Linked DNA regions of Homo sapiens: region 2 is linked to region 1. Evidence: fine-mapped expression QTL. Tissue or cell type: subcutaneous fat. Region 1 holds a variant in brackets; the other region holds the start of a gene. All regions are shown on one strand. Distances are between the middles of the regions.

Region 1 (8,101 bases):
GAGGGAGAGACATAAGGGTGAGAGAATGTTGTTAGGATGTTGGTGTCCATTCATTCATTCATTCAGTCATTCATTGTTTTATAAATAATAATTATTATTATTTTATTTATTTTTTTGAGACAGAGTCTCTCTCTACCCCCTAGGCTGGAGTCCAGTGGTGCAATCTTGGCTCACTGCAACCTCCAACTCCCAGGTTCAAGCGATTCTCCTGCTTCAGCCTCCCGAGTAGCTGGGACTGCAGGCGCCTGCCACTACTGGCTAATTTTTGTATTTTTATTAGAGGCGGGGTTTCACCATGTTGGCCAGGCTGGTCTCGAACTCCTGACCTCAAATGATCCACCCACCTCGGCCTCCCAAAGTGCTAGGATTACAGGTGTGAGCCACCACACCTGGCCACAAATAATTATTGAACACATACTGTGAGCCAAGCACTGGGTTGGGCGCTGAGGATTCGGCGCTGAATAGGACAGATGTGGGCCATGCCTGCCCAAGTCAACATCCTAGCAGGGAAGATGGACAGTAAACAGTAAACTAACAGATAGACATAAGGTCACAGAGTGTGGTGCAGACTATAAAGGGAATAAATTGCAGACAGGATGGAGAGCTATGTGGGTGGCTACTTTAGGCTGGGGCACCAGGGAGGTGACATTTCAGCAGAGACCTGAATCATAAGGACTAAGTTATGAGGGAAGATTGGGAAAGGGTTCCTGACAGGAAGAACAGTCTTTGCAAAAGCCCTGAGCTTAGCATGAGGATGTGAAAGGAGGATAAAGTGGCCAGGAGTAAGGAGGAGAACCAGAGGGAGAAGGGAGATGAGGTGGGGACAGGGCTGGCACCACGAGCCTGTGACCTCTACAGTTGCACAGGGCCCATGCTTGGTTAATGCACTGTGGTTGCTGTCCTGAAATTCTTTTTTTTTTTTTTTTTTTTTTTTTTGAGACGGAGTCTCGCTGTGTCTCCCAGGCTGGTGAGTGCAGTGGCGTTTTCTCTGCTCACTGCAACCTCCGCCTCCCAGGTTTGAGCGATTCTCCTGCTTCAGGCTTCTGAGTAGCTGGGACTGCAGGCCCATACCACCATGCCCAGCTAAGTTTTGTATTTTTAGTAGAGATGGAGTTTCAGTATGTTGGCCAGGCTGGTCTTGAACTCCAGACCTCAGGTGATCTGCCTGCCTTGGCCTCCCAAAGTGCTGGGATTACAGGTGTGAGCCACTGCACCAGGCCCTGAAATTCTTAATAGTGGTTGAACAAAGGCTTCTGCATTTTTATTTTGCACTTGGGCCCTGCAAATTATGTAGCTCGCCGTGGTTGGGAGGTTGGCAAAATAACTGGGTGTCTGTGAGTAGAGATGTGAAGGCTTCTTGGCTGGTGTTGAGTGAATGAATGAATCTGCTTTTGCAGAGTTCATCTGTGAGGCTGTCAGAGGGCCACCTTTGCCTAGACCAGGGGCTGCTGCTGTGCAGAGAGGGGTCACATTCAGACATGGCCCCAGAGTGCCCCCAAATTCTGCAGTATCTGTTAGATTCTTCCGGGCCCACTGCCTGCAGGGTTCCCAGGGCTGTGTGCACCAGGTCTGAAGCAGCATCATGAAAAGGTGGGTAAAGTCAGGCTTACCCCACCCCCTGCATTGGCAAACAATAACTCCTCCACCCGAGGTAGAATCTTGCCTGTGAAGCCTCAGACTTTAGAGCCAGACAAACTTGAGTTCAAATCTGGCTTTCACATTCTGATTAGTGGATGTGACTAAGTGTACTTTATGCAGGTGATTTGCTTCTCTGAGCCTCAGTTAGTTCCCTCATCTGTAAAATAGGGATCACTACTTCTTAGAGTTGTTGAGAGGATTAAACGAGGTAATAAGAGGAAAGCTTTTGGCACAGTCAGAACTTAGAAAATATTTGCAATAATAATAGTATTATGGCTGGGCACAGTGGCTCACACTTGTAATCCCAGCACTTTGGGAGGCCGAGGCGGGTGAATCACCTGAGGTCAGGAGTTCGAGACCAGCCTGGCCAACATGATGAAACCCCGTCTCTACTAAAAATACAAAAATTAGCCAGGCGTGGCGGCAGGATTAGTCGAGATCGCGCCACTGCACTCCAGCCTGGGCAATAGTGCAAGACTCCACAAAAAAAAAAAGTATTATTATACAATCTTTGCAGAATTGGGTAAACATTTGCTTTTGCCCCTAAATGTCTACATAGTCATGAACAGGTCACTAAATCCCCCTGAGCCTGTTTCCTCTTCTGTTCAATTGGGATGATAACAAGCTAACCCATCTCTAACCGGGGTGGTTGGGGATGAACCAACAGGATCACTGGATCACCGTGGAGCTTCTTTGTAAATTGATGTGCAGGTGTGGGCCGCTTGCACATTCCAGACCCACCCCTATCTCTCCCATCTCAGGGCAGGCTTTCTCCAAATCTGCCCGCCCGGAAGGAAAAGCACCCTTCAGTTCTTGGCAGTCTCTGGATTCCCAGCCCTGAGTTGCTGCTCTCACACTGGGAAGTCGGCCTGGGAGTGAACATTAAGTTCAAGGTCCCTGGTTAGGCAAAAAAGAGGCTGATCCAGAAGTTGGAGTAGGGGAGGGGGAGGATGAGCTGAGTGAGGACAAAGGAGCTGGAGCCAAAATCCCTGTTGGCCTTGCTTCCTGCCTCACTCTGAGGCAGGAAGCAACCAGAAAGCTGCAGAGAATTAGTCTCTGAAAAAGGACCTGAGCAACAGTCTCGGGCTGGGCAGAGCCCCCACTTCATCTCCCACATACGCTCCCCAAGGCTGATTTGCAGGAGCCTCTAAGACCGCTGGGAAGCCCTAAGCAGCACCAACCTGAGAAAGGGAGTCTCACCCCATAGGAGTCCTTGGCCGAGAAAGCGGGAAGCCGGGAAGGGGAGGCTAAAAACCCCCAGAGCTGGGTGCGGTGGCTCACGCCTGTAATCCCGGCACTTTGGGAGGCCAAGGCTGGTGAATCTCTTGAGGTCAAGAGTTCAAGACCAGCCTGGCCAACATGGTGAAACCCTGTCTTTACTAAAAATTACAAAAATTAGCCAGCCGTGGTGATGGGTGCCTGTAATCCAAGCTACTCGGGGGGCTGAGGCAGGAGAATCGCTTGAACCCAGGAGGCGGAGGTTGCAGTGAGCCGAGATCATGCCACTGCACTCCAGCCTTGGCAACAGGGCAAGACTCCATCTTAAATAGAATAAAAATAAAAATAAAATAAAAGCCCCAGGAGCCATCCCAGAGCAAGGAACAGGGGCTCTGGGGTCAGGCTGCTTGAGTCCAAGTCTAGGCTCTGCCACCAACTAGCAGTGTGACCTCAGGGTTCTGTGGCCTCTCCATGCCTCAGTGTTCCTAATCTGGAGCCCGGGGATAATAGTCATAGCTCCTGATAGTGCTGCTGGGAAAACCGAGTGCTCTGCAGTTCCCAGCAAAGCCTGATAGGTAGTGAGTGCTTTAGAAAGGTTAGTTATTATTATATATTCTTGTAAAAATGAGGCCACCCAGCAAGTTCTGTCAGAGTCTGCTGTGTCTCCTGATAGATGGGTTCAAAGCCTTCCCTTATATTTTGGGCAGGCAGCATTCATTTATTCATTTGTTTATTCAATAAATATTTATGGAGCATATTTATGGCAGCAAAGAGTGGCAGATGGGGGGCCCTAGGGCCTGATTGCTTCCCAGAGGGGCATTTGAGTGAGAACTAGCATTTATTCAGCAACAATAGGCTTAGCTTATACACACTCAGATTCTTACCAGAAATGGGCATTGCCCAGGTAGAGGAGGGAGCCCAGGTGGAGCCACGGACACGGGGCCACATAGCCACTCAGTAGCAGCCCTAGAGACTTGAATCCAGGCCATCTCACTCCAAAGCTTGTGCTTTTTCAAATCTAGATTCCAGGCCTGCCTTCCTGCTGTGCCTCCCATCTCCCTCCCCAAACCAGACTTTGGCGGAGCCAGATCCCTAGAGGCCAAAGGCCAGGTTGTTTTCTGTTGCCCACTGTGGCAGGATCTCTGTCATTTC[C/T]TTCCCAGTTCTCCTAACCATGCGGAACAACCTTGGGGCCTTCCTCCGAGGGGAAACCCAGCCTGGAAGCATCCCGTGGAAAATGTGGCTGTCAGTGACCTCTGATGTTTGTCTCTTCGGCTGCCGAGGGTCTGGGTGCCTGGGAGTGCAGCAAGGTGGGGGGCTTCCTCAATAGGTGATGCCTATGACTCTCAGGAGTTTAGACTTGGCCTCCCTCTGGCTCTGTAGCCTGGGACAAGTCATAGCCCCTCTCTGGGCCTCAGTTTCCCCATCTGTAAAAATGGGAATAGGCCAGGCATGGTGGTTCATGTCTATAATCCCAACACTTTGGAAGGCTGAGATAGGAGCATTGCTGAAGCCCAGGAGTTCAAGACCAGCCTGGGCAACATAGTGAGACCCTGTCTCTACAAAAATTTTCAAAAATTGCTGGGTATGGTGGCTTATGTCTATAGTCTCAATTACTTGGGAGGCTGAGGTGGGAGGATTGCTTGAGCGCAGGAGGTCGAGGCTGCAGTGAGCTATGATGGCACCACTGTACTCCAGTCTAGGTGGCAGAGTAAGACCGTGTCTAAAAAAAAAGAAAAAAAGGAAGAGGCATGGCATGGAGTTGAGGAACAGTAGCGAAGTTCTCACACTGGCCCTCTGGCTGGGAGTTTACGTGCTGATGTCAAGTCCTCCTGCCTTCTTTTCCTCCTGGGTGCTTGTGAGGTTCAAATGGGACTGTGGCTACAAAAGGGCTTTGGAGTGGAATCCAGAGCTGGAGAGCAGAGCAGATGTAGAAGGAAGCTGATTATTTTTGATTGAGACCCTCAGCACTTAGCTCCGCCTTCATCACATCTCACCCAGGCTGCTGCCTGTGGCCAAGTACCCATTCCCCAGACCCTCTGCAGGACCCATGGTTCCGGGTCAAGGGTGAGCCTGGGGCAAGGTTCTAACCAGGAGGTTTCTGAGCCTGACATGAGCATCCTGCTATGGTGTGAATGTTTGTGTGCCTCCTAAATCCATGTTAAAATCCTAACTCCCAAGGTGATGATACTAAAAGGTGAGGTCTTTGGGAGGTGATTAGGTCACAAGGGCAGAGCCCTCATAAGTGGGATTAGTGCTCGTATAGAATAGGCCCAAGGGAACTCATTCACCCCTTCCACCATGTGAGGATGCAGTGAGAGGGTGCCATCTACAAATGGGGAAGCCAGCCCTCACCAGACACTGAATCTGCCATAGCCTTGATCTCAGACTTCCCAGCCTTTAGAATGGTGAGAAACAGGCTGGGTGCAGTGGCTTACACTTGTAATCCCAGCACTTTGGGAGGCTGAGGCGGGCAGATCACTTGAGGTCAGGAGTTCGAGACCAGCCTGACCAACATGGTGAAACCCCATCTCTACTAAAAATACAAAAATTAGCCAGGCATGGTGGCGGGTGCCTGTAATCCCAGCTACTCAGGAGGCTGAGACAGGAGAATCGCGTGAACCCGGGAGGCAGAAGTTGCAGCGAGCCAAGATCATGCCATTGCATTCCAGCCTGGGCCACAGATCAAGACTCCGTCTCAAAAAAAAAAAAAAAAAAAAAAAATTTAGCTAGGTGTGGTAATGCACACCTTTAATCCCAGCTACTCGGGAGGCTGAGGCACAAGAATCGCTTGAACCCAGGAGGTGGAGGTTGTAGTGAGCCGAGATTGCACCACTGCACTCCAGCCTGGGCGACAGAGCAAGACTCTGTCTCAAAAGCAGAAGAAAAGAAAAAAAATAGAATGGTGAGAAATAATTTATGTTGTTTAAAAACCACCCAGTCTATTTTGTTATAGCAGCCCAAACCATAAGACACGAAGACATATCCCAAAGCTGAAAAGTCACCCACCTGGACACAATAGCTATGGGGGGGCCCTCCTGCAGCCTCCCTGACGTCCACCATGCTGGGTTTGTGCCTCGACTTCCTCACAAGTGGTGATGGGAGAGGGAGTTTGGGAGTAGGAAGAGAAGCCTGTGGCTACCCAGGGGACATTCCTTCTGGCAGAGCATGACATTCACCTTGTGCCTAATTTGGGAAACCCCTTCTGTTCTTGGGTCTCAGTTTCCCCATCTGCACTGTGAAAGGCGCCATCACACGCCCTCAGAGAGCCCTTCTGGCTCTCCAAGCCCCAGACCGCGGGCCTCTGACTTCTGCCCTCCCCAGGCTCCTGAGGGATCCAGCCTTCAGCAAATGGAGATCAGTTCCATCCTCAGGAGATTCCATCTGGGATTTTGACTCCCCTGCTCCATCTGCCACTGCTGCCCCCAGATGCCCCAGAGTGGACAGAAACCAAGGGAAGGAGGCAGGGGCACACCCCCTTCCCAGGAGGACTGGAAGGCAGGACCCTCACTTCCAGGCACACATGGATGGAGAGGTGCCATGCTGGAGGGATGGTAGGAGAGGTAGTTCTGCAAGGAGCATGCCCATCCCCTATGCCACAGGCCGGCCAGATGGTGGGGGCAGCCAAGGAGGGCTCCTTGCTCCCGCCCCACCCCTCAGGCTGTACAGGGATCTGGATTTCTTTCCATACAAAACATGTGTGGGTAGAAGCCTTCAAATGCAGATTTGGGGCTCATGAAACATTTTATTATTTTTAAATTTTTTTGTTTATTTTTACTTTAAGTTCTGGGATACATGTGTAGAACATGTATACCTATGTAACCTGCTTTGTTACATAGGTATACGTGTGCCATGGTGGTTTGCTGCACCTATCAACCTGTCACCTAGGTTTTAAGCCCCACATGCATTAGCAATTTGTCCTGATGCTCTCCCTCCCCCGACCTCCCAAACCCCACCTACAGGTCCCAGTGTGTGTTTTTCCCCTCTCTGGGTCCATGTATTCTCATTGTTCAACTCGCACTTATGAGTGAGAACATGTGGTGTTTGGTTTTCTGTTCCTGTATTAGTTTGCTGAGGATGATGGCTTCCAGCTTCATCCATGTTCCTGCAAAGGACATGATCTCATAACGCTTTTACACTGTTGGTGGGAATGTAAATTAGTTCAACCATTGTGGAAGACAGGAATCATCCTCAAGGATCTAGAACCAGAAATACCGTTTGACCCAGCAATCCCATTACTGGGCATATACCCAAAGGAATATAAATGATTCTATTATAGGCCAGGCGCGATGGCTCACACCTGTAATCCCAGCACTTTGGGAGGCCGAGGCAGGCGGATCACCTGAGGTCAGGAGTTTAAGACTGGCCTGATCAACATGGTGAAACCCTGTCTCTAATGAAAATACAAAAATTAGCCAGGCCTGGTGGTGTGCACCTGTAATCTCAGCTACTCGGGAGGCTGAGGAAGAAGAATCACTTGAACCCAGGAAGCGGATGTTGCAGTGAGCCGAGATAGCACCATTGCACTCCAGCCTGGGTGACAGAAACTCCATCTCAAAAAAAAAAAAAATTCTTTTAATCGTTCTATTTTAAAGATACATGCACATGTATGTTTATTGCAGCACTATTCACAATAACAAAGACATGGAACCAACCCAAATGCCCAACGCCGATAGACTGAATAAAGACAATGTGGTTCATGAAACATTTTAATCTGGTGGAAGCACAGTTATAGCATTTCAGAACCTTGGTATGCTGTGGAATTCGAGAATCTCAGAGGCATAGCATCCTAGAATTTTACAAAAGTGAGTCATAGGATTTAAGGTTTCTAAACTATGCTGTCCAGCACTGCAGCCGCTAGCCACATGTGGTCATAGAGCACTGAGAATGTGACTAGTCCAAGTTGAGATGTGCTTTAAGTAGAATACACAGTGGATTTGGAAGACTCAGCACAAAAGAAAGAATTTAAACATCTCATTAATCATTTCGTTATATTAATTACATGTCAAAATGATATTTTGGGTATGTTGGTTTAATACAATATATTTCTTATTTTTAAAATTTTATGTATGTATGTATGTATGTATTTATTTATTGAGATGGGATCTCGCTCTGTCGCCCAGGAATGCAGTGGCACAATCTTGGCTTATTGTAGCCTTGACCTCTGGTTCTCAAGCAATCCTCCCACCTCAGTCTCCTGAGTAGCTGAGACCGCAAGCACACACCACCACACCCCACTAATTTTATT
Region 2 (8,101 bases), 42 kb after region 1:
TGGTGCTTGCTCCAGCAGAGCCGTGGAGAGGTTGACAATGGGTGGAATGTGGCCCCTTCAGAACCCACACTTCACTGGTGCCCAGGCATGCCAGCCAAGCCCTCTGCTTCTGCAAGCCTGTTTCCCAGCAGTTGAGCTGTGCCAGGACAGCCAAGGACATTTCAGAGTCCCCAGGGCTCATAGCCAGGCTGTCACCGGGCATTGCTTATTTTCCCAGGGCCCAGGAGTCTTCAGGGATGGTGGGGGTTCTGGAGATGTTCCAAGGACTTTTCTTAACAGCTTGGTAAATTGAGGTCTGGAGAGAGCAAGGCACTTGACCAAGGTCTCACAAGGCCGCCTCCCTCATATCTGCCACTCCCCTCTGTTTCCGTGTCCTCTGCACAGACTCCTGGCCTTCTGCCTGGACGTTTGTAACAACCTCCCTCTTGTGGGCTCCCTAAGAGCTTTGTTTGTCCTCCATTATCGTAATCTTGCCATAATCTGCCAGATGCACACACTATTTGATGTGTCTACCTCCTGTCCCCTCCACTGACTGCCCGTGACAGAGTCTCCCCGACAGAGCTGTGCAGCATGAGGTTTAGGCCCCAGGCTCTGGAGCCAGTCTGAACTCTGTTTGGATGCCAGCTCTGCCCCTTCCTGGCCTGGTGACCTTGGGCATGATACCCTACTTTTCTGAGCTGCTGTCTTTGTGAAATGAAAACAGTAGCAATACTTAGTTGATAGGAATGTCAGGACAGTTAAATGGGATAACGTGTGAAATGCAGAGTACAACACCTGGTACCAAGTAAACTCTCAGAAATGGTCATCATTGTCCCAAAGGCCCATCAGTTGGTTGAACTGGAAAGTCGTGAGCATGGAGGAGTAGACCCAAGCTTGGACTGGGAGGCAGAGGATGTGGGCTCCAAGTTCATCTCAAACATTGTGTTCCTGTGTGCGTGTTGGGAAGCCACTTATCCTCTGGAAACCCCACTTTCCTTTTCTGAGAAAGGGGGAAGAAATCCCTGCTATACTTTAATAAAGTTGGCATGTGATACCGCAGCAATGCCTGTGAAAATGCTTTGCATCTGTGTAATGATTTAAAAATGGCACAGCGGTGGCTGTGGTGTGCTGATGGCGATGAGGGCATTGTAACCACAGTGGTGGGCAGCTGGCCGGGCTGGAGGCTGGTTCATCTGTGGAATGCTTAGTGCCCACACGGACTTCCCCATCCCTGCCTACCTGCTCCCGGCTGTCCACCAGCCTGCCTTCACATTAGCCCCGGCATTATATGCTAGAAAATGTGGGAGGTGCAAAGAGCTGATGGCATTTCCCCAGCCCTGGTGGGTTTTCTGTTATCTGTGGCTGATGCCATGGAATGTGGGGATTAAGAACCAGACAGATGCTGGTTCGAATCTCAGCTAAGCACTTCCCAACAGGGACCTTAAGCAAGTTGCTTAATCTCTGTGGACCTCAGGCTCCATATTTGTAAAATGAGGCCATGATCAAGTAGAGGCCAAGCATTTAACAAAGAGCCCAGAACATAATGGCATCAGGTGGTTGTATAATGTGTATTCTGCCTGGAACGTGGTCACTGACAACGTGGTGACTGACAGGTTATCGATGGCAGGAAGCTGGGGCCACTGTGCCCATTTCGGGGATTTGCTGCAGAGGTCGGTTATGCTCCCTACAGAATAACCCAGCTTAGATTTAGGAGGGTCTATGGAATCATATGGCATGATTCAATTTTTTAAATTAACTCGTTTTTTAAAATTTTATTTTTTTTAGAGATGGGGTCTTGCTGTATCTCCCAGGCTGCAGTGCCATAGTGCAGTTGTAGCTCACTGCGGCCTTGAATGCCCGGGCTTCCAGCAATCCTCCTACCTCAGCCTCCTGAATAGCTGGGACTACAGGCTCGTGTCACCATGCCTGGCTTCATGATTCTGTTTTATGTGACCAAACTGAGGCCGAGAAAGGAGTGGTACTTGCCTGAGGTCACAGGCAGGTTGTGTAAGAAGGCCGGGCCTAGGATGAGGCAAGTGAGGCATCTAAGTGCAGCGTCTCAGGAGGTGCCCGCTGTGTGCTTGCACATTGTGGAGAATAAGAACCTTTGTTTTTGAGAGAGGGTCTAGCTGTGTCGCACAGGTTGGAGTGCAGTGGTGCAATCTGGGCTTACTGTAGCCTCAACCTCCTGGGCTCAGGTGATCCTCGCACCTCAGCCCTCCCATATAACTGACTATAGGCACACGCCACTACGCTGTCTAATTTTTGTAATTTTTTTTTGTAGAGAAGGGGTTTTGCCATGTTGCCCAGGCTGGTGTTGAACTCCTGGTCTCAAACTCCTGGGTCAACCTGCCTTGAGCTCCCAAAGTGTTGGGATGACAGGCGTGAGCCACTGCACCTGGCAGTGAGCACCTTCTAAAAGGCTCCTCGCGGGCCTCACCTGAGCCTAGTCCTGGGTGAGTTCCTGATCTAGGACTGGAACCCTGGTCTCCTGGCCCCATGAACTGTTCTGGACCCCTGCGAGGTACTTTTTAGAGTCTCGCTGAGGCCTCCTATTCCTCTTTAAAAGGAGCCTCTGTGAAGTAGGTCACCCAGTGCTTTTTGCTCCACGTTTCTGTTCTCTAGCTGTTGTCTGTGTCCTAGAGAAAGCCGGGCCCACTTGCCCCCACCTCTCCCCACCTTCTGCCCCCTCCCCCTGCCAGCTGCGCCTCCATGTAAGTACTTTGAGTCCCTTAACACCCCAAGGCGTGTTGGTGGCCAGCTTTTGTCGTGATGACAAGCCCCAGCAAGTCTACAGGGACTGGCTGCTTTCATGTGGGCCCTCGGTGAAGCCTCCTTGGTCTCAGCAGGCCCTGTGTTGTACCCACCAGGCCTCTAGGAGATTAGGGGGCTTCTGTGGCTCCAGATGGCTCAAAGCTTTTCCCTTCCTCTGTGTTATCCCTAGCCCACCTGGCTTCCGTCCTCACTGGCCACGGGGCTTGGGGGATTTTCAGTCTCTCCAAGGCTCTGGCATCTTCCAGAGTGGGCTAGTCTTGGAGTGTCCATCTGAGCCATTCTTTCTGTCACCACTGCTGGGCCTGCCTGCTGGGCCTTAGGTGACTTCTTGAGAGGTGGCCAAAGCTGCTAATCCCTGGAAGGGGCTCCTAGGATTTCCCTGTGGCTGGCAGGACCCTTGGCCACCCACGTGGTGTGACATGAGGAGCCTGGAAAGCCAGCCCAACCTCCATCCTTAAGCCCCACGTATAAACATACCTTTTTTTTTTTTTTAACTGCAGCTCTCAGAGCCTGCAGTTCTACTGTTGTCAGGTTGCCTTGTGCTCTCCTTGGCATCCTCTAAGAAGGCAAATACCTTTTCAGCTGGGTGCTTTTAAGCATTTGCTGTCAAGAAGCAAGCCCTGGCCAGCCTGGCCCTTTTCCAGTGTTCTGTGTGACCGTGGCCAAGTTGCTTCTCTTCTCTGGGTCTCGTCTTTGTAAGACCCTTTTCAGCTCTAGCACTTTGAGGCTCCAGCATGGATTCTTACACCCTCCACACCTTTGCCGGTCACCTTTCTTCCTTCTCTGCAGGGTGGGGCACAGGGAAGGGCCTGGCAGCTGAGCTGGGTGGGGCCAGGGGCCAAAAGCCAGCATCATAGACACTTTTCCCTCCAGCTGGGCATACCAGTCCTTCCTCTTCTTCTCAGGACAGGTGGGGAAACTGAGGTCTGGAGGGGGAAGGGCCAGGGCTGGAACCAGGACCCAGTTATCCTTATTGCCAGTGAGTGCTCCTCCTGCTGTTGGCTGCTACCTCTCTTGAGAGGGTCAGAAGACCCACTAGCATGAGGGTCAGGGACATGCTTTTTCCTTTCCCGTGGAAGGCTCCTCCAGGCAGGGCTTGGGTGAGGCAGGCGAGGTGCCAGTGGTTCCCTGGGCACGGGGCAGAATCGGAGGAGGACATCCTCTTTCTGAGGTTAAGGAGGTAGGGGCTGGAGGCCTTGACAAGGGAGGTGGCATGAAGGGGCGTGGAGGTTTCTAGGAACGTGGTTGGTGGCGCAGGGTGCTCTAGGGCCACCTCCCTCCCTTGCTTCTGCCTTCCCTTTCTCCTGGGGAGGGGACTGGGCCAACAGTAATGCCATTTTTCCTGGCCCTGGGATTAGGTGCAGCCGTGTTAAGGAGAGGACATTCGAGAGGGCGTGGCGAAGTGAAGAGGAACCTCACGCCACTGCCTGGAGCTCCGGTGGGTCTGGGTCTGGTCATTGTCTCGCTGGCTCCTGTCCACTCTGACCACTGTCCCTGGCCCCCTGCCCTGTCCAGTCCTTCCAGGTCCATCTGAGTGTGTGTGTGTGTGTGTGTGTGTGTGTGTCCCCAGGAGGGATCTGGGGGTACAGGCTGGCACTTGAGCCTGGCACTGGGTCCTGCCTTCATTCCAGATCAGAAGCAGCTCCCGGAACTGCCCCAGGGAGAGGTCTAGGCTGACCTGGCAGATTCCTGATGGAGGAGAAGGAGGAGGAGGCTGAGGGATGGGAAGGAAGGGCTCAGTTTCTCCTGTGGCTTCTCCAGACAGCTAGGCATGTCCACAAATCCACCTGAAGCCAGCAGGTCCAAGAGTTTAAAGATTTATTTCAGGGCCACGGGGGAAGCTGAAATGGTGAGATCCCAGGGCTCTCAGATGTTGTGTTTGTGGCTTTGGTCCTGTCTAGACTGTGAGAGCCATGGCTTGTCAAAGCCAGAGGGGCCCCTAGAGAATTTCCATGTTCTTAACTTGGCTTTTGATGGGGGCCAGTCACAACCACTCTGAATTTGTGTGTCTGGGGAGAGAATCTGCTAATAGCCATCATTAGATTCTCAAAGGGTTCTATAACCCCCAGAAGGTCACAGACTTCTCCTCTAGTCCATACCCCTCACTGCAGTTGCAGAAACTGAGGCTCAGAGAAGGGAAGGGACTTGCCCAGAGACTCACAGGCGGCAATGGAGGCTGTGGCACCCCCTGCCTCTGTCTTCCTGCCAGCATTCTGCCTGACCTTACAAGCTGGGGAAGCTTGGCTCATTCAGGGGACAATGACCTCTCATCCCCTGATGAGAGGAAGGGGATGACTGGGAGGGAAGGACTGGGAGGCTGTTGTGGTTTCCAGGCCCGCATGGATTTTGGCTTCTGCATCCTTGAGATGGAGGCCCCTGAGTCTGCCTGTGCCTTGGAATCTCTCAGGGTGTATCTGAGGCCTGGAGTCGGGCATGCGGGAGGGTGGGGGCTAGTGGTGACCCACATTTCCCAGCTCCTCTGCAGGGGAGGCAGATAGGGGAGAAGCTCAGGGTGTGATAAAATTGTTTTTACTTCACTGGGCATAAATGACAAATAAATGAAGTGAGGGTTGGGAAGTGCTTGGTAGAGCGCCTGGCACATGCCAGGCCGTGAGGCGAGGTGCTCACCATTGTCCTTTGCGGTGCCCTGCTAGCTGAGATCTCCTGCTTCTGACCCTCGCTCCTGCCTCTTCCTTAGCATGAGGCCTCTGCCTGGGGCAGGAGGTGGCCCCCCTTTCTTTATTTTTTTTGAGATGGAGTTTCGCTCAGGCTAGAGTGCAATGGCGCCATCTCGGCTCACTGTAATCTCCGCCTCCCAGGTTCAAGCGATTCTCCTGCCTCAGCCTCTGGAGTTGCTGGGATTACAGGCATGTGCCACACACCTGGCTAATTTTGTATTGTTAGTAGAGATGGGGTTTCACCGTGTTAGCCAGGATGGTCTCGATCTCAGGACCTTGTGATCTACCCGCCTCAGCCTCCCAAAGTGCTGGGATTACAGGCAGGGGCCACTGCCCCGAGCCGCCATCCCCCTTTCTTATATTGGGGTGTCTGATGGGGGCGTGAGGACCCTCTGGCTGAAGTCCTGCCTTGCTGGGTTCCATGGTGCACCTCTCTGCAGTGCAGGCTTTCCCAGGAGGCTGAAGCTCAGCTAGAGAAGCTGGGTCAGCAGCCCTGGGCCTGGTCACCTCCAGGAAGCCTCTCTCCTGGGCTGCAGACCTGGCTTGGGAGTGGTGTGGAAAGTAGGACTGCAGAAGGGTAACGAACAGGGGCTGTGGGGTGGGCTGGGAGGGGCATCCTAGCTCCACCTCTGCCCAGCTGTGTGACTTCGAGCGGTTGCTTACCCTCTCTGAGCCTCCATTTCCTTGTCTGTAAAGTGCTCATAGCAGTGACACCTCTTTCAGGGTGTTAGGATTGAGCGTGATGGAGCAGGTAAGGCTCCTGGCACAGCCCCACATGTTCGCAGGAGCTTAACGTTGGCCGCCAGTAAGGGAGGTTATGATATGTGTTGGGATATGCTGCTTTGTTCCTTTTGAGTGTCTGTGATCTGAGCCTAAGGAAAAAATAGTTCTGGATGGATTTGACTCTGTCATAGGCAGATTTGGGGATAGGGTGGGCAGAGAGCCCCATTTTGGGAAGATTTGTGGCCACTGCATAACATTCTGTGTGATGGACCTGACAGCCTTGGTGTGCGTGAAGAGCCTCAGTGGGACTGTCAGGACTGTCCCGTCCTTGGGACGGGAGGGTGGCAGGTGACCTGCCGTGTTCCCCACACAGCCCCACCCCCAGGCTGTCTGGTATGTTTGCTCGGTAAGCCCTTTTTTTCAGAGCTGGTACAAAGGTAAACTCGCAACTCAGGCCCTGTTGGAAGAAGGACACATTCTCAACAAGTGAGGTCTAAGTTCCTGAGGTTTTCTGTTGGGCCTTCCCTGCCAGGGAACCCAGAACAGATTCACAAGTTGAGAACCAGGGAGTGAACCAGTAGTGCTTAATGCTTTGTTTCCTTGTTGATTGACGGATGATCTGTGAGCTACTTCCAAGAAAGATCACTAGAGGCTGCTTGTGATACTAAAACACATATAAAATGGATGAAAACAAACACAGACAGAAAACTATTGAAAAGGAATGGAGAAAGGGATGTGCAGGGCATCTGGCAAATGTTAGCTGTCTTAGGTGATCACAGAGGGGCTGCGGAGATGGGGGATGAGGGGCCCAGGCTCTGGAGCCCAGCAGCTGTGTGCTGAAGTTCCCATTCACCCCCTTATTAGCTCTGTGGGCTGCAGCAAGTGACTGGCCTCTTTGGACCTCAGTTTCTCATCCGTATAATGGGGGGAATCTAGGTCATGGTGCTGTGGTAAGGTTGAAATAATGGCATGTAACGCAGACATGGCATGTCTCATAAATGGAAGTTAATGTTATTAATGCATTTAGCTTGGAGATGCCGCGTAGCAGATTCACAGAGGGGAAGGTAATTGGCAAGGGCACAAGGCTCTTGAGTACCTGCTGTGGGTAGGAGATGGCTTGTGCCTTGGAAAGCTTTCAGTGAAGTTGGGAGCCCCATGTTCTAGTTGCAAGAACAACTGATACCTGGTGTTGCGTGGTGGGATGTGGAGCAGGGGAGCTCAATCAGGACTTTAGAAATCCAGAGCAGGCTTGTTCACCTCCCTGCTGAGGCTGGCATTGGAGGAGGAGGGACAGGGTTTTAATGGACAAGAAAATGGACCAAGGTAAATGAGAGTGGGGCACACCAGACGGCACAAGCCAGGAGGTCCTTTCCTCTCTCTGGGTCTCAGTGTCCCCAGGGGCTTACTGCAGGGTAGACTGTGCTCTCTGTGGCCCTGCGACTCTGAGCCAGACCTCCAACAGTCTCTTTCCCGGTGGTGGTGGTCCTGGACTCTGGGGTGACTGACAGGCGGCAGCTTGGCTCCTGGCCAGGCAGCACTGTGGGGGTGATGGGGGATGGGGCATGTAGCAGATTCCAGCAGAGGAAGGGATTTGCTTCTGGTCTCGGCCTCCCAGGGATGTAATCACGCTGGAGAAACTCCCGCACAGCTGGGAAGCAAATGTGGAGGATTTTCCTTGCTGAGCTGGATGTGGTGGGTGGGGCAGGCTGTGGTAGGGTGGCTGGTGGAGCTGGGAAGCTGTGGGGTGTGGCTGGGTGGGGGTGATGATGTGACTGTGCTGGGGGTGTGACTGGCTGGGAGGGGCTGGATCAGCTATGGGGAGTGGCCCTGGGTGCATGTGGGGCTACCTGTTCCCCAGGCCTGCAGCCACTGCTACGCCCTCCCCTGCTCAGGTCCCTGCCCAAGTCCAGGTACCCACCCATTCACATCCTTCTGAGGTTGCTGGC

Direction of the effects. Positions count from the first base shown, and alleles are read on the strand shown. Sizes are in standard deviations (SD) of each study's normalised expression.
In carriers of allele T in region 1, the expression in subcutaneous fat of the gene that starts at base 4,097 in region 2 tends to be lower than with C alone (moderate effect, 0.53 SD a copy in GTEx).

The links. PIP is the estimated chance that this variant, and not a neighbour inherited with it, causes the effect.
Region 2: NDST1 starts here. The variant in region 1 is fine-mapped to the expression of NDST1 in subcutaneous fat (GTEx, PIP 0.91).

The regions. Positions count from the first base shown.
Region 1 is chr5:150,462,160-150,470,260 of GRCh38, forward strand. No RefSeq gene overlaps it. Among named protein-coding and RNA genes, the nearest start is that of RPS14, 16 kb to the left of the region's middle. RefSeq lists an enhancer at 2,015-2,740. The variant C/T (reference allele first, on the strand shown) is at 4,009.
Region 2 is chr5:150,504,035-150,512,135 of GRCh38, forward strand. NDST1 (N-deacetylase and N-sulfotransferase 1) reads left to right here and starts at 4,097. Exons shown (of 15, transcript NM_001543.5): 1 at 4,097-4,192. RefSeq lists enhancers at 6,081-6,654, 7,956-8,101 and a silencer at 7,573-7,867.